Linked DNA regions of Homo sapiens. The protein of the gene in region 6 purifies or fractionates together with the protein of the main gene of each other region. This does not show direct contact. Each region holds a gene or a part of one and is shown on either strand. Other genes may lie near its edges. The genes, in order: PIBF1, SLC25A31, ATP2A1, CEP131, MYH7B and LRRCC1.

What was found.
Region 1: the proteins of LRRCC1 (region 6) and PIBF1 purify together in Homo sapiens (affinity purification with mass spectrometry; 2 studies listed by BioGRID and IntAct, with this or other methods). This does not show direct contact.
Region 2: the proteins of LRRCC1 (region 6) and SLC25A31 purify together in Homo sapiens (affinity purification with mass spectrometry; one large-scale study listed by BioGRID and IntAct). This does not show direct contact.
Region 3: the proteins of LRRCC1 (region 6) and ATP2A1 purify together in Homo sapiens (affinity purification with mass spectrometry; 2 studies listed by BioGRID and IntAct, with this or other methods). This does not show direct contact.
Region 4: the proteins of LRRCC1 (region 6) and CEP131 purify together in Homo sapiens (affinity purification with mass spectrometry; 2 studies listed by BioGRID and IntAct, with this or other methods). This does not show direct contact.
Region 5: the proteins of LRRCC1 (region 6) and MYH7B purify together in Homo sapiens (affinity purification with mass spectrometry; 2 studies listed by BioGRID and IntAct, with this or other methods). This does not show direct contact.

Annotation. Positions count from the first base shown.
Region 1 is NC_000013.11:72,787,892-72,792,943, reverse strand, and holds part of PIBF1 (progesterone-induced-blocking factor 1), read right to left. Parts: intron 498-5,052; coding exon 397-497; intron 1-396.
Region 2 is NC_000004.12:127,729,178-127,733,199, reverse strand, and holds the start of SLC25A31 (ADP/ATP translocase 4), read right to left. Parts: upstream 2,801-4,022; 5' UTR 2,655-2,800; coding exon 2,423-2,654; intron 1-2,422. UniProt on the Homo sapiens protein: ADP:ATP antiporter that mediates import of ADP into the mitochondrial matrix for ATP synthesis, and export of ATP out to fuel the cell.
Region 3 is NC_000016.10:28,884,405-28,889,456, forward strand, and holds part of ATP2A1 (sarcoplasmic/endoplasmic reticulum calcium ATPase 1), read left to right. Parts: intron 1-170; coding exon 171-251; intron 252-2,784; coding exon 2,785-2,870; intron 2,871-3,020; coding exon 3,021-3,318; intron 3,319-4,382; coding exon 4,383-4,549; intron 4,550-5,052. UniProt on the Homo sapiens protein: Key regulator of striated muscle performance by acting as the major Ca(2+) ATPase responsible for the reuptake of cytosolic Ca(2+) into the sarcoplasmic reticulum.
Region 4 is NC_000017.11:81,201,177-81,206,228, forward strand, and holds part of CEP131 (centrosomal protein of 131 kDa), read right to left. Parts: intron 2,432-5,052; coding exon 2,318-2,431; intron 1,223-2,317; coding exon 1,064-1,222; intron 1-1,063. UniProt on the Homo sapiens protein: Component of centriolar satellites contributing to the building of a complex and dynamic network required to regulate cilia/flagellum formation.
Region 5 is NC_000020.11:34,953,589-34,959,359, reverse strand, and holds the start of MYH7B (myosin-7B), read right to left. Parts: upstream 3,493-5,771; 5' UTR 3,353-3,492; exon of another isoform or gene 3,333-3,352; intron 1,263-3,332; 5' UTR 1,148-1,262; intron 1-1,147.
Region 6 is NC_000008.11:85,124,025-85,129,076, reverse strand, and holds part of LRRCC1 (leucine-rich repeat and coiled-coil domain-containing protein 1), read right to left. Parts: intron 4,286-5,052; coding exon 4,138-4,285; intron 2,389-4,137; coding exon 2,240-2,388; intron 1-2,239. UniProt on the Homo sapiens protein: Required for the organization of the mitotic spindle. Maintains the structural integrity of centrosomes during mitosis.

The DNA.
Region 1 (5,052 bases), on a different chromosome or scaffold from region 6:
ATATTTAAGCATGATAAGCCCACAACTGAGCTAGAGAAAGTACACAGGAATAATAGAAAGTACTTCAGGCCAGGAAAGTCCAATGGGTCATGAGAATCAATCAATATGTTGCGTAAAAGAAGAAAGGTTAATGGTGGTCAGTTTAGAGAGCTTCCTTTATCATATATGGTTTACACTGACCAATGTTTGTTGAATGAATGTTGAATTTTGACTTTCTGTATTTTATGTACCATATCAAGTATCCTACTTTTTTTGTGGTCTAGGTGTAAAAATTATTGCTATCTCTGACTTAAAATTTCTCTATTTTAGCTTACAGTCACAAACATGAACAGGCAATAAAATTACTTTTAATTGCTAAATAGATGTTGTTTTTTTTTTAAAAAAAACTTTTCTTACCTGGCATCTTTCTGTTGAAAAGCCAATTGGTTGTCTAATCTCAATGTTAGTAGCTGCTTCTGGTGAAGTGCATCATTAAGTTTCTCCTCCAATTCTTCAATCTTCGTAAAGAGAAAAAGATAAATTATATGATTTGTCATAAAGAAAAACTTTCAGTTTCATAATAAACATATTTTAAAAACACTTGAAAGAAACAGGCTAAAAATGGATAGAGGGACCAGGCACAGGGGCTCACGCCTATAATTCCAGCACTTTGGAAGGCCAAGTGCTGTTGCCCAGGCTAGAGTGCAGTGGCGCAACCTTGGCTCACTGCCACCTCCTCCTGCCAGGTTCAAGTGATTCTACTGCCCCAGCCTCCTGAGTAGCTGGGATTACAGCCAAGTGCCACCACACCCGGTTAATTTTTGTATTTTTAGTAGAGACAGGGTTTCACCATGTTGGTCAGGGTGTTCTTGAACTCCTGACCTCAAGTGATCAGTCCACCTTGCCCTCCCAAAATGCTGGGATTACAGGCATGAGCCACCGCGCCTGGCCTCCTGCCTCCAGTTTTGCCAACCTCCAAATTTATATTCCTCTATCTTACCTTTAAAAAATGCTATCAAAAATTTATTTTCAGCTGGGTGCGGTGGCTCACGCCTGTAATCCCAGCACTTTGGGAGGCCGAGGCGGGCAGACAACTTGAGGTCGGGAGTTCAAGATAAGCCTGGCCAGCATGGTGAAACTCCATCTTTACTAAAAAATACAAAAATTAGCCAGGCATGGTGGCGGGCGCCTGTAGTCACAGCTACTCAGGAGGCTGAGGCAGGAGAATCACTTGAACCTGGAAGGCGGAGGCTGCAGTAAGCCAAGATTGCACCACTGTACTCCAGCCTGGGAGACAGAGCGAGACTCCGTCTCAAAAAAAAAAAAATTATTTTCCTAGTTTTACATTCTTCAGAGGATCCTCACTGTCCTCAGAATAAATTCTAAACACTGTGGCATAATACAGTGGTATTTCTTGATCTAGCCAACTACTTTTGTCATTAGCTTAAAAGGAAACTCCATTTCAGCCAATATTAAGTGCTTGCCATCCCCCAAGTATGCTGTGCTTTCTCAAGCACTTGGATTTTGCTCTTAGTCTATTTAGAAAATTCTTTATTCCCTTTGCTTTAACCAAGACGATTCCTGTTTGCCCCTTAAAATACATGAATTTCAGGCAGGGCGTGGTGATTCACACCTGTAATCCCAGCACTTTGGGAGGATGAGGCGGGTGTATCACAAGGTCAGGAGATGGAGACCATACTGGCTAACATAGTAAAACTCTGTCTCTACTAAAAATACAAAAAATTAGCCGGGTGTGGTGGCATGTGCCTGTAGTCCCAGCTACTCGGGAGGCTGAGGCAGGAGAATCGCGTGAACCCGGGAGGCGGAGGTTGCAGTGAGCTGAGATCATGCCACTGCACTCCAGCCTGGGCGACAGAGTGAGACTCCATCTAAAACAAACAAACAAACAAACAAACAAACAAACAAAAATACATGAATTTCACAGCCAATCCATAACATATGCAAGTAAATCCCTCCTCTTGCATCGTCAAGTCCCTCTTCTCTACTGAATCATTCTATCATCAAGCAAATGGTCCCTTGATCACATCATTCTCTTTGCTATAGCACCATTTCTCTGTTGGTCTTCAGAGCAAAACTTCAATATAGTTTTTGCCCCATACTATTCCAGTGAAACTATTCTTGTTAAAGTCCATAATGTCCTGTGCATTGTTTTTTTCTGCCTATTTATCTTATTTGACAGCATGACTTGATACAGCTAACCACTTCATTCTCTTTTAGCTTCCATGATACTCTTCTCTAGTTTTCTTAACTCACTAAATACTCTTAAGCTTTCTAGGCTCCTCAGCTGGACTACCCCTTTGACTTACTTTATAGCCCTCTGTTCTCCCTAGGAAATACCATACAATCCCATGGCTTTAGGTGCCACCTATATGCTGATTTATCTATCTATCTATCTATCTATCTATCTATCTATCTATCTATCTATCTATCTATGTGTGTGTGTGATCTATCTATAAGGGTGTGTGTGATCTATCTATAAGTGTGTGTGTGTGTGTGTGTGTGTGTGTGTGTGTGTGTGTGTGATGGACTCCTCCTAAACTCTAACTGACAATTACATTTAGGAATCTATAAGTTACACCTTCAAAACTGAACTTATTAATATATTTTACCTCCCAGATCAGTTTTCTCCCAGCCTTCCATTCTTATAAATGGCCCCAGTTAAATAAGCCAAAAACTTAGGAATGTAACTCTTCTGTTTCTGTCTTGTCTGCCCTTAGTCTATTATTTTAGTGCCATTTTGAATACAGAAATCAGGACATGTAACTCTTAACTGCTAAACTTTGCCAATAGCTTTTCTGACTACATAGTCTAAAGCAAGAATTAAAAAATGGTGATGGGCTAAATCCAGCCCATAAGAAAAATCTGATAGAGCATAGGTGGCCTACAAAGCATAAAATATTTTCTGTCTTGGCCATAAGAAGGGGGACCTCTGTCATATCCATTGGCATATATCCAGCAACATCTCAATAAATAAATCAATATAAAATGTAAAATAAACACATTCCTTATAATTACTGTTTCCCAAATCAAGAATACTGTTACATGTTGAGCATCCCAAACCCTAAAATCTGAAATTCAAAATGCTCTGAAGTCTGAAACTTTTTGAGAGTCACTATGACACTCAAAGGAAATGCTCAGTTGACCCTTTTGGATTTCAGACTTTCAGATCTGGGATGCTCAACTGGTCTAACACAAATATTCCCAAATTAAAAAAAAAATCAAAAATCTGAAATATTTCTGGTCCCAAGCATTTTAGATAAGAAACAACCTGTATCACGAGGAAAAAAAAAACATTTTTTTCAGGGTTTCAATGTTTATAATTTCAATTAACTTCTAAATTGAGTCTCTTAACTCAAGGACAAGCTGGGAAATGTATTCATTTCCCAGGTAATAAGGAACCCACAGATCTCTAATGAGAGATAAATAAAAAGAGTTTGGGGCATTTAAAAATTTTAAAGAGCTCAATTCTGTGGCTCAGGCTGTAAACCCAGCACTTTGGGGGGCCAAGGTGGGAGGATTGCTTGAAGCCAGGAGTTTGAGACTAGCCTGGACAACATAGTGAGACCCTGTTTCTACAAAAAAATTAAAAAAATTAGCTGGGTGTGGTGGTACACGCCTGTAGTCTCAGCTGCTCAAGAGGCTGAGATGAGAGGATTGCTTGAGCCCAGTAATTTGAGGCTGCAGAGAGCTGTGATCAAGCCACTGCACTCCAGCCTGGGCAAGAGAGTGAGACCCTGTCTAAAAATTTGAAAGGCAAGAACAGAGAAGAGGAAAGGAATAAAGAAGTACAGTAAGGAAGGGAATCTAGGCAGCAATAGATGGAAATAAAAGTGTAAAGCTAACAATGCTCTACTATCAGGAAGTTTGGCCTGAATAGCTACTCTTCTGAGTAGCTTTTCTACATTCTTTCAGTTAACAAGCAGCTGAGTGGGAAGTGCTTTTAAAGTGTTCTTGGACCTGCTTGTTCCTGTTTTTAGACATGGAGAATTCAAATCAATACGGCCAAGACTATTCCTAGTAACAAACTATAATAAAGCCATGTATCCATAACCATTTGTATTGGTGCCACAATGGAGTGGGACATGTTAGATTCAAATATTTTCTAACTAAAAAAAGATTTTGATGGGTAGAAGAAAAAACTTACTTGCCTCCCAACATCAAACCTTCCCTTCTTTCTGACATACTCTGGTTTTTATTAGTAACAACATGTCCAGTTAGCTTCCCATCCCTTGTAGGTAGGGGTGGTCATGCTATACAATGTTAGTCAATTGAGGCCACTGGCTTGAACTTCTGGAAGAACTCTTTAAAGAGGACTGACTCATTTGGCACATGCCCCCTTTTCCACTATCCTTCTCCTTATTACCACCTTTTACATGTACACAATACTGGAGGCAGATAAGCTATCTTATGATTTCAGGTGAAAAGCATATGTTGAAAATAGCTAAGGTTAAAAGGAGCCTGGGTTCCTAATGCGATCAAGGAGTAATCACTTGAGGTCTACTAAAATACCTATTTTTGGATTTTTGTTATACCAAAGAAACAAAATCCTTCTCTTGCTTAAGCCATGGTTTCCAGGTCTCTGTTACCAGAAACCACCATTTTTCAAGTCTCTGGTATTAACTGCTGAACTTAATCCTTGAAACCCTGGGCAGTTGGTTCAATCTCTTTCCAAAATAGAAATACCTATAATATTTATTAACAGTTGACTATTCAGGACTACTTAAATGCTTCCAATGACAGGAAGCTCAGAAACTTAAGATCAGGCCATTTCAATGTTAATAGCAATAACAGGCTTACACTGAGCAGAAATCTACCTTTCCTGTGACTTCCAACCATTATCATGGAGCTATAGTCTAGTGAGGAAAATTTATTTTTCATAACGTTAGCATACGATGCTCAATAAGCTTTGGAGAATGAATGACCAATTAAAAATACCTTTCTTTCAAGACCTAGGCTTTAAGTTTCCTGCCCAGGCTAAAAAGTGTATGGCATGGCTGGGTGCAGTGGCTTCACACCTGCACTTTGGGAGGCTGAAATGGGTGGATTGCTTGA
Region 2 (4,022 bases), on a different chromosome or scaffold from region 6:
TAGTAAACTTCTGAACAGAAGAAAGTACGATCTTTTTTCTACTTCCTTATATGGTAGCTGCATTACTGGAATCAGTGTATACTAAAATCATGCCCCAGACAATGTGTTTATAAGTAAATCAGAGTTAAGTTATTTCTAGGCTTAGAGAAACATAAACAGGTTTCACTGCTACACGAAAATCGAAGGGGAGATCTAAAAGTCATTCAGGTTGCGGGATAAATCTTCATCATGTATGACTGGCCTGCATATAGCAGCAGGACGTTTAACATTCCTGGCCCTTGCCTTTCATACCATTGTAAAGTAGGATTATACCCCTCTATCTTTGTGCTAAATAAAAAAAAATTGCCCCACAAGTTTCCGAAATTGCCTCTAGATGGCAATAGTATCCTTGTAAATTACTGATCTCTTAGCATAGGATACACCATGGTACCTTCATAAAGCTTTATATATAATAGAAAACATCTTCAAGTTCTACTTATGATCCTCTCATCTTGGAACTTAAAGCAAGGACCAGGATACATCTGAGAATGATATCAACTTACAAGGGCCATATTGAATACGTTTAGGTTTAAATATTGTGAAAAACATTTAAAATATGAAATAAATTAGCACTAGTCAGCCCTATCTGACCAGAATACTTCATTTTACCTGACAAAATATTTGAAGCAGAAAAGCTAATAATAGAGAGGCCCCTACTTCTCTTCAGAAGTCTTAGAATATAAACGAAGAAGAGACAGGTTCCTTGCTTTTCCTGAAAAAATCTTGGGGGAAATGAGAAGCTTGCTTTAATTAAATGAATGAGTGGAGAGAGGCAAACTATGAAAGACCTGAGCTTAGCTCCCAGATGATGCATTAAGTTTCTACCCCTGACCCCATATACTCCACGCCACAGGTCTGGAAGAGTTGTAACCACATCCCTAGCATTCCTAGGGTACAAGGTGCTTTTTTAAATGGGACAGTATCTGGCCCTAGAACAGGACTAAAAGAAAGGTCTGCACTGGAGTTGAAGCCACTTCATTTCTTGAGAATACACAATAAATGTCTATTTCTTTTTAAAAGATCATACAGATTTTTCTATTGAATCCAACTATATGGGTGGATTATATAAAATATCTGATAGACTTATCCCTTTAGCTAACTTGGGAGCCATTTTGCAGCAATGGTTCACAAAGCACTTTCGTTATTTCTTTAAATCATTCCAATATTAATAGAAAAAATCAATGATGAACAAAAATGAAATTTTAAATAAGGACAGTGCTTGATGCAAAAAGAAAAACTGGTAATACTGATCCCATCTTTATTTTAAACTTGTATATATTGTGTTTGTTATGAATTCTTTTGCATGACTTGATTTTTAAAAGATTGCATTAAAATAGTTTAAAGTTTTTTTTTTTTCCTGTTTTTAGGAGTGGAGGTTTAATAGAAAAAATAAAGAGAAAGGAGAACAGCTCTCTCTCTAGTTGAAAGAGAGGGGCTTCGGAAACGGAAGGACCCTAAAGTTTTGTTTGTTTTTTTGAGACAGGGTCTCACTCCTTCATCCAGGCTGGAGTGCGGTGGCGCGATCTGGGCTCCCTGAAATCCCCGCATCAGGGTCCCGCAAGTAGCTGGGACTGCAGGCGTGCGCCACCACGCCCGGCTAATTTTTGTATATTTAGCATAGACTGGGTTTCGCCATGTTAGTCAGGCTTGTCTAGAACTCCTGAGCTCGAGCTCAAGTGATCCGCCCGCCTCGGCCTTCCAAAGTGCTAGGATTATAGGCGTGAGCCACCGCGCCTGGCCTTAAAATACTTTTTATCTTGATGACTGAGGGTTGGGTTTTTTTTTTTTAGGGCCCCCTTGAATTTTGGGCAGAACGAAGTACCCCCTTGGTCTTCAGTAGAATAAGCAGAACCTCTTTTCACTAATAGGTTTCAGAGTACTGGTAAGCCCTAGTGCTCCCATATTTGTACTTCTCTTAGACATACTATTTCAACAAATATACATATAGATTTTGACTCAAGGTCTCCTCTGTCGCCCATGCTGGAGCATAGTGGGGTGATTATACCAACAAATATTTAAGCAACTTAGAGCACTAGTTATAGCAGAGTGCCTAATGGCATCTCCCTCAATCCTGGGAGGTCAACCACTCTCCTTCTGGACCTGGCACAGGTGCACCAAGGTGTAAATCGCACTGCAGATTTAGAGAAAGAGAAGGCAGTGGTCTCCCCGGTACCAGGACTTGGTCAGGACCAACGCGGCCCTGGAAAAGCAGAGCCTGTTAGGTTCAGAAACTAAATTCTGGAAGGGTAAGAAGCAAATTCATCACCGACAGCTGTAGCTGTGGTTGTGGGGCCCACAATCATGCCCCTCCCAGCCACCCTCTTCTCTGGGAAGCTGACGAGGGCGCCGGGAGAGGCTGTCGGGGCGGCCTGCCTTGACGCACCCTGCTCGCGAGGAATCCGCACCAGGCAGTCCACCATGCCTTTGTACCGCGCCTCGGGGCTGATCTGCTTCGACGACGCCTGCACCTGCAGCAGCAGCTTCACCCGCTCGATGGGCGCCACCGCTGTCTTGGACACAGCTGCCGCGACTCCGCCGGCCAGAAGGTCCTTCCCGAAGGATGAGGCGTCAAACAGCCGCTTTTCTGCCTTCTTTTTCGCAGGCTCACGATGCATGATGGAGAAGGATATAAAAACCGGCAGCAGTGGCTAAAAATGAGTACGGGAGCTACGATGAAGGGAAGCGGAAAACCGGAAAACCGCTGCAGCATCGTACTGGCGAGAAAGTGGCTCTTGGGACGCTGAGAGAGCCGCGCGCCGGCGAGGCGCGTGCGGAAAAGCTGCGCAGGCGCTCCAACGGCCTCCAGCCACGTGACGCCTGACACGTGACACCTGACACGTGACTCCTGACACGTGGCTCCTGGATGCGCGGTGACGCCTGCGCACTTCTACGAGCGGAGCCTGGGCTTTCTGATGAGGGAGGGGTCCGGAGGCGGTGAGCATTGAGCAGGAAAGGCGAGGGGAGGGGCCGAGGAGAGCCAGTTCTGTGTGAAGAAATTTAGTAGCTGAGACTAGGCCAGAGCAGTAAACCAGCGGTGTGAGATTAACAGAATTTAGTTTTAGTTCCTAGTGTTACCCCCTTCACTTTCTTAATCGCTTTAATCCGTTACGTTTTTTTTGACCAGAGATGGTTCCTTTGACCTTTCTTGGCATCTTAAAAAAGACAGTCTTACCTGTTGTGTGATTCAAGTGATGTTCCCCTTAAATTTCACCCTATGTGCCTGTTAATGCTTCAAATTCCCTTGGAAATTGCTTTAATCTGTTCCTTTAATTAAGCAGGGATCCTTTGTCTAGTCACTTTCTGTGTCGTTTTGATGATTGTGCCCCCATAGCATAATACATGTTCCTCTTTTTCATATTGTATTTAAATTGATAATATCCAGAGCAGTGGTTCTCAATCCAGACTGCACATTCAAGGGGATGAGGGGTGTTTTGTTTTGTTTTTCAAATTGATGCTTGGGATTAGGCCCTGCACATTAAATCAGAACGTCTAGAAGTGAGGCCTGGCATCAGTATTTAAATTCTCCAGGTAATTCTAGTGTTTGAAGTAATTCTAATTCTAGGGTTGAGGGCCAATGACCTATCTAGAAGAGTAGTTCACAAACTTTTCGATTGCAGGACCCCTCTTTTTCACTCTGAAAAATTATTGAAGGCCAGGTACCAGTAATCCCAAAACTTTGGGCCAAGTCCAGCCTGGGCAACATAGTGAGACCCCTCCTTTACAAAAAAAAAAATAGCTGGGCGTGGCTGCACAAGCCTGTAGTCCTAAGTATAGCTACTTAGGAGGCTAAGACAGGAGAAATGCTTGAGCCCTGGAGTTGTAGGCTGCAGTGAGTTATTATCTCACCACTGTGCTCCAGCCTGGGCAACAGAGCAGGACCCTGTCTCTTAAAAAAAATTATTGAAGACACAATGAAGCTTCCGTTTTTATTATGTATATTGGCATTTACCACTCAGAAATTAAAACACGATTTAAAAATATTT
Region 3 (5,052 bases), on a different chromosome or scaffold from region 6:
GGGTTGCCAGCTTCAGGAGCTCAAGCCAAGGGCCTGATGCAAGCCCTGGGAGCCTCCCTGAGACCTGAAGGATGGATGAGGAGAACGAGTCAGACACAGATTGGGTTTTTCTTTGGAAGGAAGAAAATTCCATTCCCAAGTGACCTCCCTCTTCCCTACTCTCTCCACAGTGGGGGACAAAGTCCCTGCAGACATCCGAATCCTCGCCATCAAATCCACCACGCTGCGGGTTGACCAGTCCATCCTGACAGGTCTGCTGGCCTGGGTGGGAAGATGCATGGGGGTGGGACGTGGGGAGGAAGAGGCAACAAGGGGGAGGTGAGTGGAAAGACAGAGAACCCTCACTGTCTGAGCAACATAAAGAGACCCTGTCTCTACAAAAAAATTTTAAAAACTAGCTGAGCATGTTGTTGAGTGCCTGTAGTCCTGACTACTCAGGATGCTGAGGCAGGAGGATCGCCTGGGTACAGGAGGTCAAGGCAGCAGTGAGCTGTGATCACACCACTGCACTCCATCCTGGGCCACCCTGTCTCTGTCAAAATAAAAACAAAAGGCTGTGCGAGGTGGCTCATGCCTGTAATCCCAGCACTTTGGGAGGCCGAGGTGGGTGGATCACCTGAGGTCAGGAGTTAGAGACCAGCCTGGCCAACATGGTGAAACCCCATCTCTACCAAAAAATACAAAAAACACAAAAATTAGCCAGGCGTGGTGGCAGGCACCTGTAGTCCCAGCTACTCAGGAGGCTGATACAGTAGAACTGCATGAACCCAGGAGGCTGAGGCTGCAGTGAGCCAAGATCATGTCACTGCACTCCAGCATGGGCAACAAGAGCAAGACCCCATCTCAAAAAAAAAAAAAAAAGACAAAACAAAACAAAACCCAGCACTGGGGCCTCCCCCTGGCTCGCTAGTAGTGGCTGTGGCAGTGGCAGCACTGCTTGACATTTTCTTTTTTTTTTGAGATGGAGTCTTGCTCTGTCACCCAGGCTGGAATGCAGTGGCGCGATTTCAGCTCACTGCAACCTCTGCCTCCTGGCTTCAAGCAATTCCCTGCTTCAGCCTCCAGAGTAGCTGGGATTACAGACGTCCACCATCACACCCGGCTAATTTTTGTATTTTTAGTAGAGACAGGGTTTTACCGTCTTGGCCAGGCTGGTCTTGAACTCCTGACCTCGTGATCCACCCACCTCAGCCTCCCAAAGTGCTGGGATTACAGGTGTGAGCCACCCACTGCACCTGACCTGCTTGACGTTTCCATTCTGTCCCAAGCCTGAAACGGGACGGGTAGTGGGAGAAGGCTGGATGTTGTTGCCTACTCTCTAGATAGCCACCAGCCCACCCCTTCCACATGGACATAGGGCCACAGACACCTCGAGAACTGTCCTGTCTCCTTCAGCCTCCTCAAAAATCCTCCAGGGAGGAGCCATGAGATTCTAGGACAAGATAGGGGGTTCAGATACACTGAAAACCATGGCTGCTAGGCTGGGCGTGGTGGCTCATACCTGTAATCCCAGTGCTTTGGGAGGCTGAGGCAGGAGAATTACTTGAGGTCAGGAGTTTCAGACCAGCCTCGGCAACACAGCGAGACCCCATCTCTATAAAAAAAAAATTTTTTTAACTAGCTGGGTGTGGTGGTGTGCACCTGTAGTCCCAGCTACTTGGGAGGCTGAGGTGGGAGGATTGCCTAAGCCCAGAAGCTTGAGGCCACAGTGAGCTATGATTACCACGGCAGTCCAGCATGGACAACAGAGCAAGACCCCATCTCTATAAAATTTTTTTAAAAATTAGCTGGGCATTGTACTGCACACCTGTAGTCCCAGTTGTTTGGGAGGCTGAGGTGGGAGGATCACTTGAACCCAAGAGTTTGAGGCTGCAATGAGCTATGATCACACCACTGCGTTCCAGCCTGGGCAACAGAGCAAGACCCTGTCTCTGTAAAACCACCATAGCTGCTTCTGTTTCCGCACTGGCAGGGAGAAGCGAAGAAGAGGCAGAAAACATTCCCCATGGTCCCAGGGGGCAAGGGCTAGGCTGGCCCAGGCTTGCTGCTGAGCCCCTGCTCTTAGGGTGAGGGAGGCATGGTCGTAAGTGTAGGTCCCCCTTCCTCCCAGAAACATGCTTGACAGTTAAAAGTGTGGCTCCAAATATGTCCACTTATTTGATTTTCACCCAAGACATTGTTTTGCAGTGTACATGTCCTTGTCCCCATTTTACAGAGGAGCACATGGAAGTTAGGTGATCAAACACAGCTTGTTAGTGGTCAAGCTGGGGCTTGGGTCGAGGTCTTTTTAAGAGCCGTGGACTTCTGGCTGGGCACGGTGGCCTGTAATCCCAGCACTTTGGGAGGCTGAGGTGGGCGGATCACTTGAGGTCAGGAGTTCGAGACCAGCCTGGCCAACATGGTGAGACCCCGTCTCTACTAAAAATACAAAAAAAAAAAAAAAATTAGCCAGGTGTGACAGCATGTGCCTGTAATCCCAGCTACTTGGGAGGCTGAGGCAGGAGTATTGCCTGAACCCGGGAGGTTGCAGTGAGCTGAGATCTTGACACTGCACTCTAGCCTGGGTGACAAGACTGCAACTCTGTCTCAAAAAAAAAAAAAAAAAAAGGAGCAATGGACTTCCTAGCTGCCTTCAGTGGCTTCTTCCAGAGTCCAGACATCCCCCAGGATGGCTACTTGGTCCTTACCAGGAGCTGTCCTGCTGAGCAGGGAGAGAGTTAGGCACGGGAAGCCTGGGAGAAGGACATGATGTCATCCGAAAACCCCTTGGCCCCTTCTCCACAGGCGAGTCTGTATCTGTCATCAAACACACGGAGCCCGTTCCTGACCCCCGAGCTGTCAACCAGGACAAGAAGAACATGCTTTTCTCGGTGAGCAATCCGGGACCAGCCATCACACACTCAGTCAAGCCAGGTGCCCGGGTTGGAGAGAAACATGGCGTGTGAGAAGAGATGGCGTGGGGAGATGCGGCATGAGGGTCACCTCTTGCCTGATTCCCTGCCTCCTCTTTCCCTTCCCAGGGCACCAACATTGCAGCCGGCAAGGCCTTGGGCATCGTGGCCACCACTGGTGTGGGCACCGAGATTGGGAAGATCCGAGACCAAATGGCTGCCACAGAACAGGACAAGACCCCCTTGCAGCAGAAGCTGGATGAGTTTGGGGAGCAGCTCTCCAAGGTCATCTCCCTCATCTGTGTGGCTGTCTGGCTTATCAACATTGGCCACTTCAACGACCCCGTCCATGGGGGCTCCTGGTTCCGCGGGGCCATCTACTACTTTAAGATTGCCGTGGCCTTGGCTGTGGCTGCCATCCCCGAAGGTATGAAAGCCTTTCTTTTCTCCTCCCATTTGCTAATCCCATCTGCAAAGACCCCTTTTCTTTTCTTTTCTTTTCTTTTTTTCTTTTTTGTTTTTTGAGATGGAGTCTTGCTCTGTCACCCAGGCTGGAGTGCAGTGGCGTGATCTCGGCTCACTGCAAGCTCCGCCTCGCGGGTTCACGCCATTCTCCTGCCTCAGCCTCCCTAGCAGCTGGGACTACAGGTGCACGCCGCCATGCCTGGCTAATTTTTTTATATTTTTAGTAGATACGGGGTTTCACCGTGTTAGCCAGGATGGTCTCGATCTCCTGACCTCCTGATCTGCCCGCCTTGGCCTCCCAAAGTGCTGGGATTACAGGCGTGAGCCACCGCACCCGGCCTTGCTCAGTGCAACCTCTGCCTCCTGGGTTCAAGTGATTCTTCTGCCTCTGCCTCCCAAGTAGCTGGGATTACAGGTGCACGCCACCATGCCTGGCTAATTTTTGTGTTTTCAGTAGAGATGGGGTTTCACCATGTTGGCCAGGCTGGTCTCGAACTCCTGGGCTCAAGCAATCCACCCGCCTCGGCCTCCCAAAGTGCTGGGGTTACAGGTGTGAGCCACCACGCCTGGCCCAAAGACCCCTTTTCCAAGTAAGGTAACATTTACAGGCTCCAGGGATTAGGATCTGGTATCTTTGCGGACCATTATTGTTTGTTTGTTTAATAGAGACAGAGTCTCACTCTTGTTGCCCAGGCTGGAGTGTGGTAGCACAATCATAACTCACTGTAATCTCGAACTCCTGGATTCAAACAATCCTCTTGTCCCAGCCTCCTGGGTAACTGGTACCACAGGCAATCACCACCACACCCAGCTAATTTTTAAATATTTTCAGAGGAGTCTCACTGTGTTTTCCAGGCTGGTCTCAAACTCCTGGCCTCAAGTGATCCTCCCGCCTCAGCCTCCCAAAGTGCTAGGATTATAGGTGTGCACCAACGTGCCCAGCTGGGGGCTACTATTTAGCCCCTTGCAGGTTCCCTCACACCCTCCCCTTGCAGGTTCCCTCACACCCTCCCTCCCTCCCCACAGGTCTTCCTGCAGTCATCACCACCTGCCTGGCCCTGGGTACCCGTCGGATGGCAAAGAAGAATGCCATTGTAAGAAGCTTGCCCTCCGTAGAGACCCTGGGCTGCACCTCTGTCATCTGTTCCGACAAGACAGGCACCCTCACCACCAACCAGATGTCTGTCTGCAAGGTCAGGAGCAGTGTGGGCAGCGCGCTCAGTCAGAAGGCTGCCTGTGGGGGTTAAATGGGCCCTCCAAAGATAGAGGTCTCCCTTCATCACTGCTGGCTTCTCATCTGGGCCTGCAAAATGCTCAAAGGGCAGTAGAACGCCATCCTGTCTGCCATGAACGGGATCAGAGAGGACCCTTGTGCCCCAGCCAGACAGCTCACTCTGACCACCATCCACGCACCAGGCACTGCCACACATCGTCTCTCATCCCTCACAATAGCCCATTCAGAGGATGGTCTCATTATCTTCATTTTTTTAATTAAAAAAAATTATTATTATTTTGAGACAGAGTCTCACTCTGTCGCCCAGGCTGGAGTGCAGTGGTGTGATCTTGGCTCACTGCAACCTCTGCCTCCCGGGTTCAAGCGATTCATCTGCCTCAGCCTCCCTAGTAGCTGGGACTACAGGTGCCTGCCACCACGCCTGGCTAATTTTTTTGCATTTGTAATAGAGACAGGGTTCGC
Region 4 (5,052 bases), on a different chromosome or scaffold from region 6:
CGGGAGCAGTCTGCCCCGGGCAGAACTGGGGGGCTTCAAGGGGTTGCGGGCTTCTGGTCCCCCTTCCCTCGTGCCACCCACCGCGTCTACAGGCCTGGTCTCCCTAGCCCTAACTGGGCGGTAGGGTAGGTGACGGCTCCGCCAGGAGCAGGCTCCGAAAGTCCAGGCAGGGAGGTACCCCCGCGACTGTCCTGACAAGAAACGACTGTCATGGTCACAGGAGGCTCCGCCCACAGCCCCTCCAGCTCCCCAGGGGCAAGCGGCAGGGGCACAGCCCCCAACAGTCATCATCACAGGAGGCTCCGCCCACAGCCCCTGGAGCTTTGGGTGTTGTTGGCTTTTTTCAGTTCTGTATCTTCTTTGCCTTTAATGTTGTTTTAATTAACAGTTTTACTGAGGTACAATTTCCATACTATAAAATCTACCCATTTTCAGTGTACAAGTCAATGATTTTTAGCAAATCTAGAGTTGTGTGACCATCAGCACAGTGCAGTTCTGGAATGTTCCACTGCCCCTGGAGGAGCCCTCTCTGCCACCCCTACACCAGCCTTCGACCTCCTGTGATAAACTTGCCTTTGCTTGGTGTTTTATGTAAATAGAACCACACCACATGGGGTCTGCTCGGTCTCAATATTTTAAAACAGGCCGGGGGTGGTGGCTCACGCCTGTAATCCCAGCACTTTGGGAGGCGGAGGCGGGCGGATCACGAGGTCAGGAGATCGAGAACATCCTGGCTAACACGGTGAAACCCCGTCTCTACTAAAAATACAAAAAATTAGCCAGGCGTGGTGGCGGGCACCTGTAGTCCCAGCTACTCGGGAGGCTGAGGCAGGAGAATGGTGTGAACCCGGGAGGCAGAGCTTGCAGCGAGCAGAGATCGCGCCACTGCACTCCAGCCTGGGCGACAGAGCGAGACTCTGTCTCAAAAAAAAAAAAAATTAAATTAAAACAATTATTAAATGGAAATTTCTATCCTCGGAGGTGTGAGCCCCCCAGACCCTGATGCCTGCCCACCTCTGTGTTCTAGGCTCAGGCCCCCCCCCACCGCCCCAAGATCGGTCACCTCTCAGCCTCCTCCTCCGTCACCTCCTTCCGCCTGGGCAAGCCCGTGCTGCCCCCAGTATTGTTCCGGGCTGAGTGGGTGGCACTGGAGACATTCTTCGGCAGCTTCCCAAAGCCGCTGCTCTCACTGCCCTCACAGGTGGCTGCCTTGATGATGTTGCTGACAGGTAAGAAGAAAACACCCTCGTCTCACCGCCCAGGGGAACAGCTCTGCCCACAGGCAGCAGGTGCCCACTCCCGGAAGTCCCAGGACTGAGCCTGGAAGTGGTGCTGGCAGGCTGGCAGCCGGGGCAGAGGGGGACAGCGGCAGGTGCGAGGCCGGCTCTCCCGTGCCACATCCTGGCCTCTGGACCACCTGTGCCCTGACAAGGTCCCACTCACTGGTACCCAGGATAATGAGCTCTTTGCATTTAAAAACTTCTCACTAAAGTTACATTGAGAGGCTGGGTGCCCTGGCTCACACCTGTAATCCCAGCACTTTGGGAGGCCAAAGCGGGCGGATCACCTGAGGTCACGAGTTCGAGACCAGCCTTGCCAACATGGTGAAACCCCATTTCTACTAAAAACACAAAAAAATTCGCTCGGCATGGTGGCGGGCACCTGTACTCCCAGCTACACGGGAGGCTGAGGCAGGAGAATCGCTTGAACCTGGGAGGCAGAGGTTGCAGTAAGCCGAGATCATGCCACTGCACTCCAGCCTGGGCAACAAGAATGAAACTCCATTTCAAAAAAAAAAAAAATTCCATTGAGAAAGTTCCCAAAAGTCACAGGAGTCCAGAGCCTGAGGGACCCCTGAGCAACCCCAAGGCCATCCCCAATCCCCGCAAGACCATGTGGTGGTGGACTCGGGGGCTCCTTTGCCCCGCTCGGTCCACCCCCGCTGTGACGCCTTCTGGGCTCTGCACAAGCCTTGGCTTCCTCCTGGGGGCCCCACCTCAGGGTGAGCCCCAGACCTCACTGTGCCACATCTGGGCTGTTTTCTCTCTGTGGGAAGCTGCCGACCCAAGAACAGAAGAGGGCGGCGGACGTGGATGGGGAGCCCGGTTCACAGCTGCTCCACGCGGTTTTACGTGCACTGACCACGTGCCCTGACCGAGGTTGGACCCCATGCACACTGACCGCATGCCCTGACCAAGGTAGAACCCTGTGTGAACTGACCGCGTGCCCTGACCGAGGTCGGACCCCAGGTGCACTGACTACATGCCCTAACTGAGGTCGGACCCCGCAGCCCCGCGGCCTCCCCAGAAGACCTTACTTGAGGGAGGGGGCAGTCTGGTTGGAGCTCTTGAGCGGAGGCGCCCTCTCCGAGGGGGTGTAGCGGTTGTGCACCATGGTGGTGACGCAGTTGCCCACTGCTCCCTTGTTGCTCCTGCCAGGCCGGAAGAGAGACAGGAATGGTCAGGCCTCTGGAGGGGACGCCTGAGATCTCAGAGCTACACTCGCAGCACGGGCTGGGAGGGAACAAAGGCCTTCAGTGCTTGCTACGTGCTGGCAGCATTGTCGTCCAGTGTCCCCAGGCCCCTTCCACAGCCTGCGCCCTGATGATGGGGTTCTTCCCAGGACAGGAAAGCTGGACCAGGGGCTCCCACGGGGCAGGGGATAGAATCGAGGCATGAACGCTGGACGTGCCCAAGACGGGGGGAGCAGCTCAGGCCAGCAGCTCACAATCAGCTTCCAGAGCAGACTCACAGAAGCGAAGCCCCATCCCACACGACGGATGGAAGCCACATTCTCTGCCTCTGCCCCTCCGCAGACCCGCAGGAAGGCGGGAGGACAGGACCAATACCGAGGCTGACAGGAGGGATGGGGAGACTGCAGGAAAGGGGCATCTGCAGACCTGGAGGATTAGAAACAGAAGGGCCAGCAGAGAGCAACTGGGACACAAGGGAGGGTCCAGGCATTGTGGGGAGGGAGGGCGAGGAGCTGGCAGGTCCCGTGCCCCCACGGAGACACACTGTTCTCCCACAGGCATGGACAGGCTTTGAGGCAAAGGGGAGAATCTGGCTGCTCGGCAAAGCCCCTTCCCTCACTTGAGCCGCTAGCATCCACCCTGCCCTCCCCAGCTGGCCCTGCAGGTGGGGCAGAGATGGGTGATTCACCCAGGACAGCCACCGCCACCCCTCCCCAGCAGTGCAACCGGGCAGCCAGGACTCGAACCCTGGGGCGGGCTGGGGGTTTGTCTCTGGAGAGACTCAGCCTGTGAGGAGGGTCCCACAGACACTGGTAGGTGGGGATACTCAACAATGCCTTGCTCTCTGCACCAGTGCCCCGAAGTGAAGCCACCAGGCAATAGGCTTCCAGCTAACTCCTAGGGCCTCCCTTTTAACAAGAACCACCAAGACATCTGGGCAAAGACCAACATGTCAGAGGCCCAAAATCAAACCAACAGAACATGATGGGAATGAGGATAAGCAGAGAGCAGAGCAATGCACGAAACCTGCTCCTGCACCAGCCTGCACCTGCACCGGACCACACCTGCACCAGCCTGCACCTGCACCGGACCACACCTGCACCGGACCACACCTGCACCGGACCGCACCAGGCACCAGCCCACGCCCAGCACCAGCCTGGCCTGCACCTGGCACCAGCCTGCACTCACAAACGTTCAACAGCTGGTTCTTGGAGCGCGGCTCATCTGCCAATTTGGGTGGTGTGAATAACCTACCAGGACTGATTTTGAGCTGTTCAGGAATGAGCAGCATGGCATGTATTCATAAATGTTTTCAATAAAACACTAAATGGCCGGGCGCAGTGGCTCACACCTATAATCCTAGCACTTTGGGAGGCTGAGGCGGGTGGATCACAAGGTTAGGGGTTCGAGACCAGTCTGGCCAACATAGCGAAACCCCGTCTCTACTAAAAATACAAAAATTAGCCTAGTGTGGTGGCACACGCCTGTAGTCCCAGCTACCCAGGAGGCTGAGGCAAGAGAATCACTGGAACCCGGGAAGCGGAGGTTGCGGTGAGCCGAGATCACACCACTGCACTCTGGCTTGGGCGACAGAGCGAGACTTCGTCTCAAAAACAAAAACAAACAAACAAAAAAACACCAGAAGAAATAGCTTGAAAAGATGCTGCTCCTCAGGGGCAGGCGCCAGGGGTAGGAGGGGCGGCAAGAGTGTGGGTAGGAGGGGCAGCAGTGGGGTAGGAGGGGCAGCGGGGCAGTGGGTGGGGGGTAGGAGGGGCAGCGGGATGGGGGTAGGAGGGGTGGGGGGGTAGGAGGGGCGGCGCGGGGGTAGGAGGGGCAGCGGGAGGGGAGGTAGGAGGGGCAGGGGTGGGGAGGGTAGGAGGGGCAGCACATTTTAAGCCTATGGTGCTGTTTGACATTTTGGCTGTGTATGAACATATAACTGATAAATACTAAGGTAAATTTTAGGACCAGGTGTGGGGGCTCAAACCTGTAATCCCAGGGCTTTTGGGGAGGTCAAGGAAGGAGGATTGCCCGAGCCCAGGAGTTTGAGACCAGCCTGGGCAACACAGCGAGACTTCATCTCTACAACAAATTTAAAAATTAGCCAGGAGTGGTGTTGTGCACCTGTGGTCCCAGCTGCTCCGAAGGCTGAAGGGGGAGGATCTCTTGAGCCCAGGAGGTAGAGGCTGCAGTGAGCTATGATCGTGGACTCCAGTCAGGGTGACAGATGAGAACCTGCCTCTAACTTAAAAATAAATTAAAAAGCAAGAATTGAGCTGGGTGCAGTGGCTCACGCCTATAATCCCAGCACTTTGGGAGGCCAAGGCGGGTGGATCATGAGGTCAGGAGATCGAGACCATCCCGGCCAACATGGTGAAACCCTGTCTCTACGAAAAAAATACAAAAATTACTCGGGCGTGGTGGCGTGGTGGCACGTGCTTATAATCTCAGCTACTCGGGAGGCTGAGGCTGGAGAATCGCTTGAACCAGGGAGTCAGAGGTTGCAGTGAGCCGAGATCATGCCACCGCACTCCAGCCTGGTGACAGAGCAAGACTCCATCTCAAAAAAAAAAAGGCAA
Region 5 (5,771 bases), on a different chromosome or scaffold from region 6:
GCTCCGGAATCTTCAGCAGGTTCCCTACAGTCCACTACATGGACTCCATCCTTGCCAGGGAGTGAGGATCCAGCAAAGGCCTGGGGCCAAAAAGACCCTGGGCAAGTTCCCCAATCCTATGTGTCTTGATCTGAGATCCCCAAGTGAGCCTGAGAAGGTCTGTGAATTCCTCCACGTAGCTGATGCAAAATTTTATACTAATGGATCTCAGACGAGTCTATAGCCTCAAAAGTAACAAACCACAGACTTGACCTGACTTAGCATGGTTTCTTATTCACCCAATGGAGATACGATTTCTACCTTGAAAGGCTGTGAAGGGATTAAATGAGGTAATTTGTGAGAAGTACTTGAAACATCCTCAGCTTTCATTAAATGTTGGTTTCCTTCTCTTTCTCTCTCCCCAAACTATTTCCATCAGTTAGCAAATATTATTGAGCATCTGCCACGTGGCAGGCACCAGTCAGGTCCTGGGGGTAAAGTGGTGAACAAGACAGACATGGCCCATTTTCATGGGGCTCACATTCTAGCAGAGGGAAACAGCAAACAAATAAAAGCAACAATTTCAGATATGAATAACTGCTATGAAGAAAATACAAGGCCGGGCACGGTGGCTCACGCCTGTAATCCCAGCACTTTGAGAGGCAGAGGCGGACGGATCACAAGGTCAGGAGTTTGAGACCAGCCTGATCAACATGGTGAAACCCTGTCTCTCCTAAAAATACAAAAATTAGCCGGGCATGGTGGCACGTGCCTGTAATCCCAGCTACTCAGGAGACTGAGGCAGGAGAATTGTTTGAACCCAGGAGACAGAGGTTGCAGTGAGCCAAGATCGCACCACTGCACTCCAGCCTGGGCAACAGAGTGAGACTCCATCTCAAAAAAAAGAAAAGGATAACGTGATAGACTTATAGGGTGGGGCAGCCTCCAGGGATGAAACATCTGAATGACCAAAGGAGCCAGTCATGCCAGGATTTTGGAGGAAAGCACCCAGGCAGAGAGTGCAGAAAGGGCAAACGCTCCCTGGAAAGATTCTTAGTCAAGAGTCCTTCACTCCCAGTCCTACCACAAACTGGGTCACCTTGAACAAGTCACGTAACTTCTGAGGCTCAGCTGCCACATCTACAAAATGGGAATAAAGACATCTTACCTGCCACATTGTGAGAGGTTTCAACCAAAGGGCTGTTAAGGTCTGGGATCCTCCCCAAATCTCACCATAGACACCTGATACTCATCACTTGGCACCCGTCTTGGAAGAGGGGAACCTGCACAGAGAACCCTGGGTCATGCTTTTGATTTTTAATTTCATGCTGCACTAGAAATAGCTTCTTTTGTTCCTGGTTGACCCAGGAGCCTCTTCCTGCCACCTGGGGCCTATTCTAGTTAACAGCTGCTTATCCCCTCAGGTACAAAAGCCAACGAGGAAAGGACATCAGGAAACATTGTTCTGGGAATAACCAGACACCTATCTGCCACCATCTCCCCCCATCCCGTGACCACACACGGGAGACTGGAGGACTCAGCCTGTCCTGTAGTCAGATAATGTACATGGTTTATTTAAAGAGTCAAAAGGGGCCGGGCGCAGTGGCTAACGCCTGTAATCCTAGCACTCTGGGAGGCTGGGGCGGGTGGATCACCTGAGCTCAAGAGTTTCAGACCAATCTGGCCAACATGGTGAAACCCTGTCTCTACCAAAAATACAAAAATTAGCCGGGTGTGGTGGTGGACGCCTGTAATCCCAGCTACTTGGGAGGCTGAGGCAGGAGAATTGCTTGAACCTGGGAAGTGGAGGTTGCAGTGAGCTGAGATCGTGCCACTGCACTCCAGCCTGGGCAACAACAACGAAAACTCCGTCTCAAAAAAAAAAAAAAAAAAAAAGAGTCAAAAGGATCTTGGTCCCTGGGTTGGGCCACTGATTTACGATCACTAGGAGTTCTCACTCCTAAATTTCTTTGATCTGTTCGCTTCGCTCCATCTCCACAGCTGCTGCACTGGCTACAGCCTCATGATCTCACATCTTAACTCTCTCTGCTTTCTCTGGCCCATCTCCCCACTTCCAAACCATTTGTCACGCTGTAACCAGTGCCTAACACACAAAACTAACCATGTCCTTCCCCTGCTTAAAGCCCTTAGCTCCTGTTGCTCAGTGGAACTGGCGTCTGAGGCTACCTCTCCAAGCCTAAGCGCCTAAGTCCTGTTGCAACCCTCAGGCCCTTCCTCATTATCCACACCAAACTCCTCAGTGTCTGTAAAACAAGCCGAGCAACCCTCAGAATTATATGCCTTCGCTGCTCGTTTGTTTTGTTTTTAGGACAGGGTCTCACGCTGTCACCCAGGCAGGAGTGCTGCAGCGTGATCTCAGCTCACAGCAGCCTCCGTCTCCGGGGCTCAAGAATTCTCACGCCGCAGCCTCCCGAGTAGCTGGGATTACAGGCACGGGCCAACACACCCGGCTAATTCTTGTATTTCTAGTAGAGACGGGGTTTCGCCATGTTGCCCAGCCTGGTCTCCAACTCCTGAGCTCAAGTAATCCACCTGCCTCGGCCTCTCAAAGTGCTGGGATTACAGGTCTGAGCCACTGCACCCAGCCAGCCTTTGCTGCTTTTGTTCCTGCAATTTGGAACACTGTCCCCATCCCAGCCTCTCACCTCTACCCCTACCTCCTTCACTACCTATACCTTCCTATCCATCCTTCAAGACCCCAAAAACCATCCCTGATTCCTTCAGAAAGGCAGTTTATTGCCTATCTTATCAGACTGAAAGCAGTGGCTGTGTCTTATTTATGGTTAATTCCCTAGAAGCTGGACTGATACATTCCATTTAACTAAAATTCGTATCAGGTGCTTCGGACTGCAGACAAGCCTATCACAACCCAGAAGGAAGAAACAGGGAAGGCACCTGGGGGCTGCCAAGCAATGAGGTGGGGGGTAGGAATCATGAATCCGCATATTTTTAAAAACTGCCCCAGATCCTGATGTAAACGGTACAAGAGAGTCTGAGAAACACAGGGCTCCCCTCAAACAGTCCTGACTTCAGCATTCCTGGAAAAATGAAAATCCTTTCCTTTTGCCTCTAATGCTTTCCCTGCTGGTATCCCAGGTTAAAAAAAAATAGATAAAATCAGGGGGATTTTTCTGGGACTTGGCTGGGCTGGGAAACAAGCCTGGGTTCTAATACAGGCTCAGCCCCTGACGTACTATGGGCCCCTGCCCCTCCTTGGGGCCTCCATTACCACGGCCACCCCCACCCTTATCAATTGTGTGCCCCTGAGGTAGTGACTGTCCCGCTCTGAGCATTAGTTTCCCCATCTTCCACTAGTCGTCGTCAGCTCTGACGCTCTATGAGCTATGCATACCCGTAGCTCCCCGCCGACCCCGATGGTCCCCTCCCCTCCTTCCCAAGGTCCATCCGCCAGGGTGCAGCCGACGCACTCCTAATGCTAAGGCCGCCCTCTCATCGACCGCCCCTTCCTGGCCTCGACTCAGCGCCAAAGGTATGGGTCTCTGCCCCGCCTGCTCTTTAAGCCTAGCCGGGGCGGTCAGCGCAAGCGCACTGGGTCGCATCGAGGCCCCGCCCCCTGAGCCTGGGTAGCGGCGCGAGGGCCGGGAGAACCGTTCGCGGAGGAAAGGCGAACTAGTAGGTTGGGGCGGCCACGGCGGCCGGCATGGGTCACGTTTCCTCGGGAGGAACGATGTGAGGGAGGGGTCTGGCAAGAGATTGGAATTCCGGAGGCCGGGAGACCTTGTGGCTGAAACCCTTCGTAGGAGCGGGGCAACTAGTGTCTAGTGAGGGGGTTGGGCTGGCGCGCACTGATCCCAGACTTTCCGGATCTTCTGCCTTTAGATCGGGCCGGTGTCGGGGCATGTAGGCCAGTGAGACTGGAGCCAGTTAGAGCTACAACGGGGAGCGATTAGGGCCAAACTTTGTCCAGGGTGGAAGCGAGCGGGCCCGTGAAGTGGGGCCAGCCTGGGCAGCCGACCGTGTCGTTGCCTCGGGGCCTTTCCAGGCACTGGCCTAAGTCCTGGCGATAAAGTGCGACCGATTTCCTTGTGGGCGTTTTGAGGCTTTCGGTGATCTGACCCGTCTGTCATTCATTCTTCATTCATTCATGTGATGAATGAATACAGTACTAAGCGCGGCTAATTACTAGGTAGAGAAGTGATCAAGACAAACACTGTTCCTACGGTACAGGGAAAAGTGATGGGCTGTAGAATGTAGAAGCCCGGGGCGGAGAACAGGGACAGCTTCCGGAACGAAATCGCGAGCCCAGATCAGGAGTGGTGGCGAGAGTTCCAAAGAGAAGACAGCACGTGCCAAGTCCTGGAAGGGGGACAGAGGCCAACATATCCTGGTCACTGAAGACACCTGACTCTGAATCTGTTTCACGCCCAGGGAAGAGATGACAGTGGCCGGGGCTAGGCTACAAACTCTGGAAATGGAGATAAATAAAGGAATTCAAAGTACTATATACTTAGGCAGCAAAATCCATAGGATTTGGGGAGAGTGAGATGTAGGAAACAAGTACTCAAGGCTTGGGTACCTGGGTGGGGTTCATCAGAGAAGAAGCAGATTTGTGGGAGACAACAACAAATTCTATTCTGGTTGTATGGAGACTCGCAGGAAAAAATTGGATATTCTAGTTTGAAGGTAGGAAAGTATTGCTGTGAAGATGTAGATTTGAATGTCATCAGCAAAACATAAATAAAGCCAAGGGAGGGTTGAGGCTGTAGAATGAGAAAAACAAAGGGCCCACTTAGCACCTTCATCTGATTTCTTTTCTTTCTTTCTTTTTTTCTTTTTTTTTTTTTTTGACAGAGCTTTGCTCTTGTTGCCCAGGCTGGAGTGCAATGGCACGATCTCGGCTCACTACAACCTCCACCTCCTGGGTTCAAGCTATTCTCCTGCCTCAGCCTCCCAAGTAGCTCGGATTACAGGCATGCGCCACCAGGCCCGGCTAATTTTGTATTTTTAGTAGAGATGGGGTTTCTCCATGTTGGTGAGGCTGGTCTCGAACTCCCGACCTCGGGTGATCCGCCTGCCTCGGCCTCACAAAGTGCTGGGATTACACGAGTGAGCCACCACACCTGGCCCATGGTGATTATCTTTATGTCTTATCCTCCTCCATATCCCCAGTACCTAGTCAAGGGAGTGGCATTAAATGCAAATCAGTGTTTGCCAACTAAATAAAAGCCCAACAGCAAACAGATGTTGGAATTTCAGAGTTGTGGAACGATGGGGGCTCATGGAGGGTTTCATTACTCTAATGTCAAGGTAATGGGTTCTTGTCCTGGCTCTGCCACTAGGCTTCTGTGTGACCTCTGACAAGTCTCCTCCTACCTATAAAGAGAGTACAGCCAAAAAATGGTCTCATGTATAGAGCTTCAAACACTGCTGATAAATTTCACACTGATTTTTCTCTTTTAATCCACACAGCAATCTTACTTGAAAGGGAAGTCGGCTGGGCGGGGTGGCTCACGCCTGTAATCCCAGCACTTTGGGAGGCCGAGAGTGGGGGATCACGAGATCGAGACCATCCTGGCTAACACGGTGAAACCCCGTCTCTACTAAAAATACAAAAAATTAGCCGGGCATGGTGGCAGGTGCCTGTAGTCCCAGCTACTCGGGAGGCTGAGGCAGGAGAATGGCATGAACCCAGGAGGCGGAGCTTGCAGTGAGCCGAGATCGTGCGGCTGCACTCCAGCCTGGGCGACAGAGCCAGACTCCGTCAAAAAAAAAAAAAAAGAAAGAAAGAGGGAGGGAGAGAGAGAGAAAGA
Region 6 (5,052 bases):
TGTTCATGCTCTCAACTCCTGTTTGATATGCTATATGAAAGCGTGCTAGACTGTATATGGGTAGGGGCAGGGAAAGCCACAGAGAAACAGAAATGGAACAATCATCTAAGCAACAGTTAAGGGCCTAAAGAAAGGTAACAGTTTTGGGATACAGAGGAGATAGTTCAACATCTTTTAAGATGATATCAATATCAATTGATGAATAAAAGTATCAATAAAGATGGTAATATCAACTGGTTGTGGGATAGGAGAAAGAGAAAGGAAGCAAAAAACAAAGATTCCTAGATTTCTATAGTTTTGGTGACTGACTGGATGCTGGATGGGGCACCATTTATTAGGGCAAGAAATATAAAATAAGGAAGAAGAATGAATCCACCTGAGGCCATGGTGATCTTAAGAAACTTATGAGGAATACAGGCAAGGCATTTTTAGTAGATAATTAGATGAACAGATCTGGTCATCAAGGAGGTTTGGATAATAAAGATACCATAGTAGGTAAGATTCATTTTTTGAAATTGTATATACTCACAGCATGGCACCCACATGCCAGACCCTGCATTAGGGATACAGAGTCCCTACCAAGGCACATAAGGGAACAGGGAGATTGGTAAGGATCTAATCTCAAACAAACATGTGGTGGTGGGGGGGGTGGGGGGGTGGCACAGATAAAAGAAGAATCAGAAAAGATTGATTTTTCATGAGAAAAATGAATACATAACTTGGGAAACACGGGCACAACAATAGGTTAAGTAAGAAGAAAGATAAAGTGTGCCCAAAGTCTTCCAGTTTAAATGGACTTTGGCTAGCAGCCCTAGACACAGCGTCCTCTAATATCCCACTAAATACCTAGAATACAGAATAAAGTAAAAATTCATACACATATAACTGAAAACAAAGGATAAGAGAATGCCAAAATTTGGGAATAATTTCAATTACAAGGCAAATGGAACTAAATTGAAATTAAAAACAACTCCTACAACACTCAGGCTTTGCCTCATGAAACTGCTCCATTCTGAAAAAAGGAAGACATATCTTTTCTCTTCTACTATCTGTCCATGACTCAGTCACAAGATCTCTATAAATCTGTCACTACATAATGTTGGTTACTCATGCACTTACTGAAAGCAGGAGTGCTGTTTTTCTGAGGTAGTCAGAGCACTCTTAATTGAGACATCCTGTTCCCTCATCCATACCCAGTAGCTTCTTGTGTCAATTCAGACAGACATTTATAAAACACAAATAAGGCAGGAAGTTGGTGGGTAGTGGTAGAAGGGCTAGTGATAACATAACGCATCACAGCTTTATAATTATAGAGGTTCTCATAGCATGCATGTTGCGTATTAGAATTGTCCTTATACTCCACAGGTACAACCTATCAGAGAAACATGCAGTGGGGTAGAAAACACCACGTCAGTATCACAAAAGTGCCTAAAAGAAATCGGGAACTGGGCTGTGAACTGTGTACATCAACTTATCCAAATCAGATTTTAGAAGGGGAATTATCCACTGCACAATCAGACAAGAAATGGAACCAAGAGCAACTTCCCAAAGTGTGTTAGCAAATGTCAAGTCTAAAAACCTAGTGCTCATTCAAGGGTAAGAAACCATAAGAAACTCTAAACATGTTATAATCATTTGAGGAAAAGCATGACGTTAGAAATAATTACAGGAAACAGAAGAAAAAAAGTTATTGTAATTTAAAAAACTGGTATTTTCACAGAATGAAATGACAGACCTGTATTAAAGAATGCAATACAACAAAACAAAACAAAACAAAAAACCCAGATAAAATGGGAGACGTAATGGTGAGGATAGAATAAAAACATCAGAATTAAGAAACTGGGCTATATGATACAAAAGCCCATTGCAGAAGATAAGTATGTGATGAGATCAAATATGACCCATGAAGCTTAAAGAAAAAGGCTGCCAATGCCTGCCCTTTACAGAATCTGGCACTTTACATAAAGTTTGTTAATCACTGCTCTAGTCTCTTGCTGTTCTTTACTTATAATATTTATCTGACACCTTCCTGCTTGAGGGCTCAAATACATGTACCTGAATTTCTTGTTGATATAACAAGCTAATAAAGTGCTAAATTGTCTAATAAAATTAGTTCAAATCAAACTAAAACCACATACATTGTTGTTGATTGAACCACACTGAAACTAATGTATTCCAGTTCTAAAGTCAGTATTGTTTATGCTATGAGGTATCTTCAGGTTTATTAATTTCTTTTTACCTATCTGTGGTAAGTAGAGCCAGACTATGAATATCCTCTTTTTCATTTGCATGTTTATGCAGCTCATCAATATAATCCATGAGTTTATTTTCGGCTTGCTCAGCTCTCCATCTCTTCTCTCTCTCTTGGTCTAGCTGTTCAACAAGGGACTGAAAGAAAACAACAAAGTTATGTGAACTTAGAAAAGTTACCTAACTTCTCACAGCCTCAATTTTCCCATTTATAACAGGGGAATAATAGTACCTACTTCAAAGAGCTACAGTGAAACTTTTTATTTTATTTTTTTGAGTCTCACTCTGCCACCCAGGCTGGAGTGGAGTGGCATGATCTCAGCTCACTGCAAACTCCACCTCCTGGATTCCAGCAATTCTTCTGCCTCAGCTTTCCGAGTAGATGGGACTACAGGCATGTGCCACCAAGCTTGGCTGTTTTTTTGTATTTTTAGTAGAGATGGGGTTTCACCACGTTGGCCAGGCTGGTCTCGAACTCCTGACCTCAAGTGATCCACCCACCTCGGCCTCCCAAAGTGTTGGGATTACAGGTGTGAGCCACTGCGCCGGGCCAAAAATTATGTTACTGGTAGCAAAGCATGTAGGTAAGTGCAGAACAGTGCCTGCTACATAATAACCAATCAATAAATGTTAGCTGCTATTATTATGCCATAGTAGATAAGATTCCTTTTTTGAAATAGTATATACTCATAGCATGGCACCCACATGCCAGACTCTGTATTAAGGAAACAGAGTCCTTACCAAGGCACGCAAGGGAATATAAAGATTGGTAAGGATCTAATCTCGAACAAACTTGGGGCGGGGGTTGAATCAGAAAAGATTGATTTTTCATGAGAAAAATGAATATGTAACTTGGGAAACACAGGCACAATAGGTTAAGTAAGAAGAAAGATGAAGTGTGTCCAAAGTCATAATGATAATTATTATTTTTCAATATTAAAGCCTCTATAGTTGAGAATAAGGGGAGGAAACCAGTAGCCTAAAATGTACCAATTCTATTATTGAAAGAACAATACACAAGTAATATAAGGGGAAGTTAATGAAAAATATAAAATAATGAAACCACAAGTACTGAAGTTTCTCAACATGAGAAATGTTAAGCAAATTTTAAAGAATTAAAACATTTTTGAACACCTCTTTTTTTTTTTTTTTTTTTGACGGAGTCTCGCTCTGTCGCCCAGGCTGGAGTGCAGTGGCGGGATCTCGGCTCACTGCAAGCTCCGCCTCCCGGGTTCACGCCATTCTCCTGCCTCAGCCTCCCAAGTAGCTGGGACTACAGGCGCCCGCCACTACGCCCGGCTAATTTTTTGTATTTTTAGTAGAGACGGGGTTTCACCATTTTAGCCGGGATGGTCTCGATCTCCTGACCTCGTGATCCGCCCGCCTCGGCCTCCCAAAGTGCTGGGATTACAGGCGTGAGCCACCGCGCCCGGCCTTGAACACCTCTTAATCTGGGATCCAGTGGTCCAAAATTGAGTTTCAGGAAAGTCCATGAAAACCTTGAAATATATACATTTTTTTGAGTGTAAAAATAGGCTTCTTTGAGAAGACCTGTAAATTTTTTTAGATACTGAAAAGGGTCTGACACCCAAAAAAAGTAGGAAGCACTACCTTAAGGAATAAGAATTAAAAAATTCATAACTGTTTCTTCCTCCAGAAGCATGTAACAAATGATTTCACTTAAATCTGATCATAAAAAAATGTAATTTTCATTCGTTCAAAAATAACATTACATAAAATCTGGAAATCAGGAAGGAAAAAATAACCCATTTTCATCACTCCAATAAAATTCAAACACTTTTTGCTAATAAAAGCATGCATAATTTTTCTGGGACTCTGTATTTAAAATTATTCATACTCATTTTTTCTTTAACTCTTAAATCATACCTGGTAAGTGTTGTCTTCTGAGTGACTTTGGTCTACTTTAATTATTTCAGTCTTTGGCTTTTCTGATTCTTGTAACATAGGACAGTTTGCTAAAGATGAGCTTACATATAATTCTTTAAGGTAAGGTGGTTTCATTTTACGATTACAACTGTAAAGAATGAAACATAGAAAATAACTCAAAAAAGTAGTGTTCACATTACTTTTCTCTAAATTAACATTTCTAGTTGTATATGCAAACAGCTTTTTAAAAAGAATATTAATAAAATTATAGTAACTTGGACAAACTGCTTCATAAATTTTATAATGGGTGTGCTCTGTTGATTAATGAGTGCCTTAAGATTTTAAAAAAGATAATGATTTCATAAATGTTCAGGGTTCAACATTTTCAGGTAGGGTAGAATTCTTGGATATATCAGAATAATTTAAAAAGTACTGTGGTAAGATGATACCCAAGAACTTGAAAAGACAGTAAATAGAACTACTCTTTGAGAGTTAAAAGTTTAAAATCGACATACAATGGATCAAAGTTAATAGATTCTATCACTTGGTAGGACCAAAGAAATTCCAGGGTATGTCCTGGAAAAAAGTACAGTGTTTGAAGTGAACTGAATGCCTCTGTGTGTGTGGGTATATATACATGTAAAATGTAATTGGGTAGGTATGGAAGAATTAATCAACAACAAAACAACAAAATATGCTTTGCAAAAGGAGAATTACAGAGGCAAAAGTTTACTGTAACCATCCCAGAGTAGTCATTTCTGAACCACTTGTCATGGTGATCCCAATTATGAAAGTACAGATATTGGTCTCCCTTGTCCTTATGGCATTAAACACAATCATCTTATTCACATTTAATCCTAAACTCAGTATCATCTGACTAGGATTTGACTTTCCATCTAGATCTGCCTACAAAGA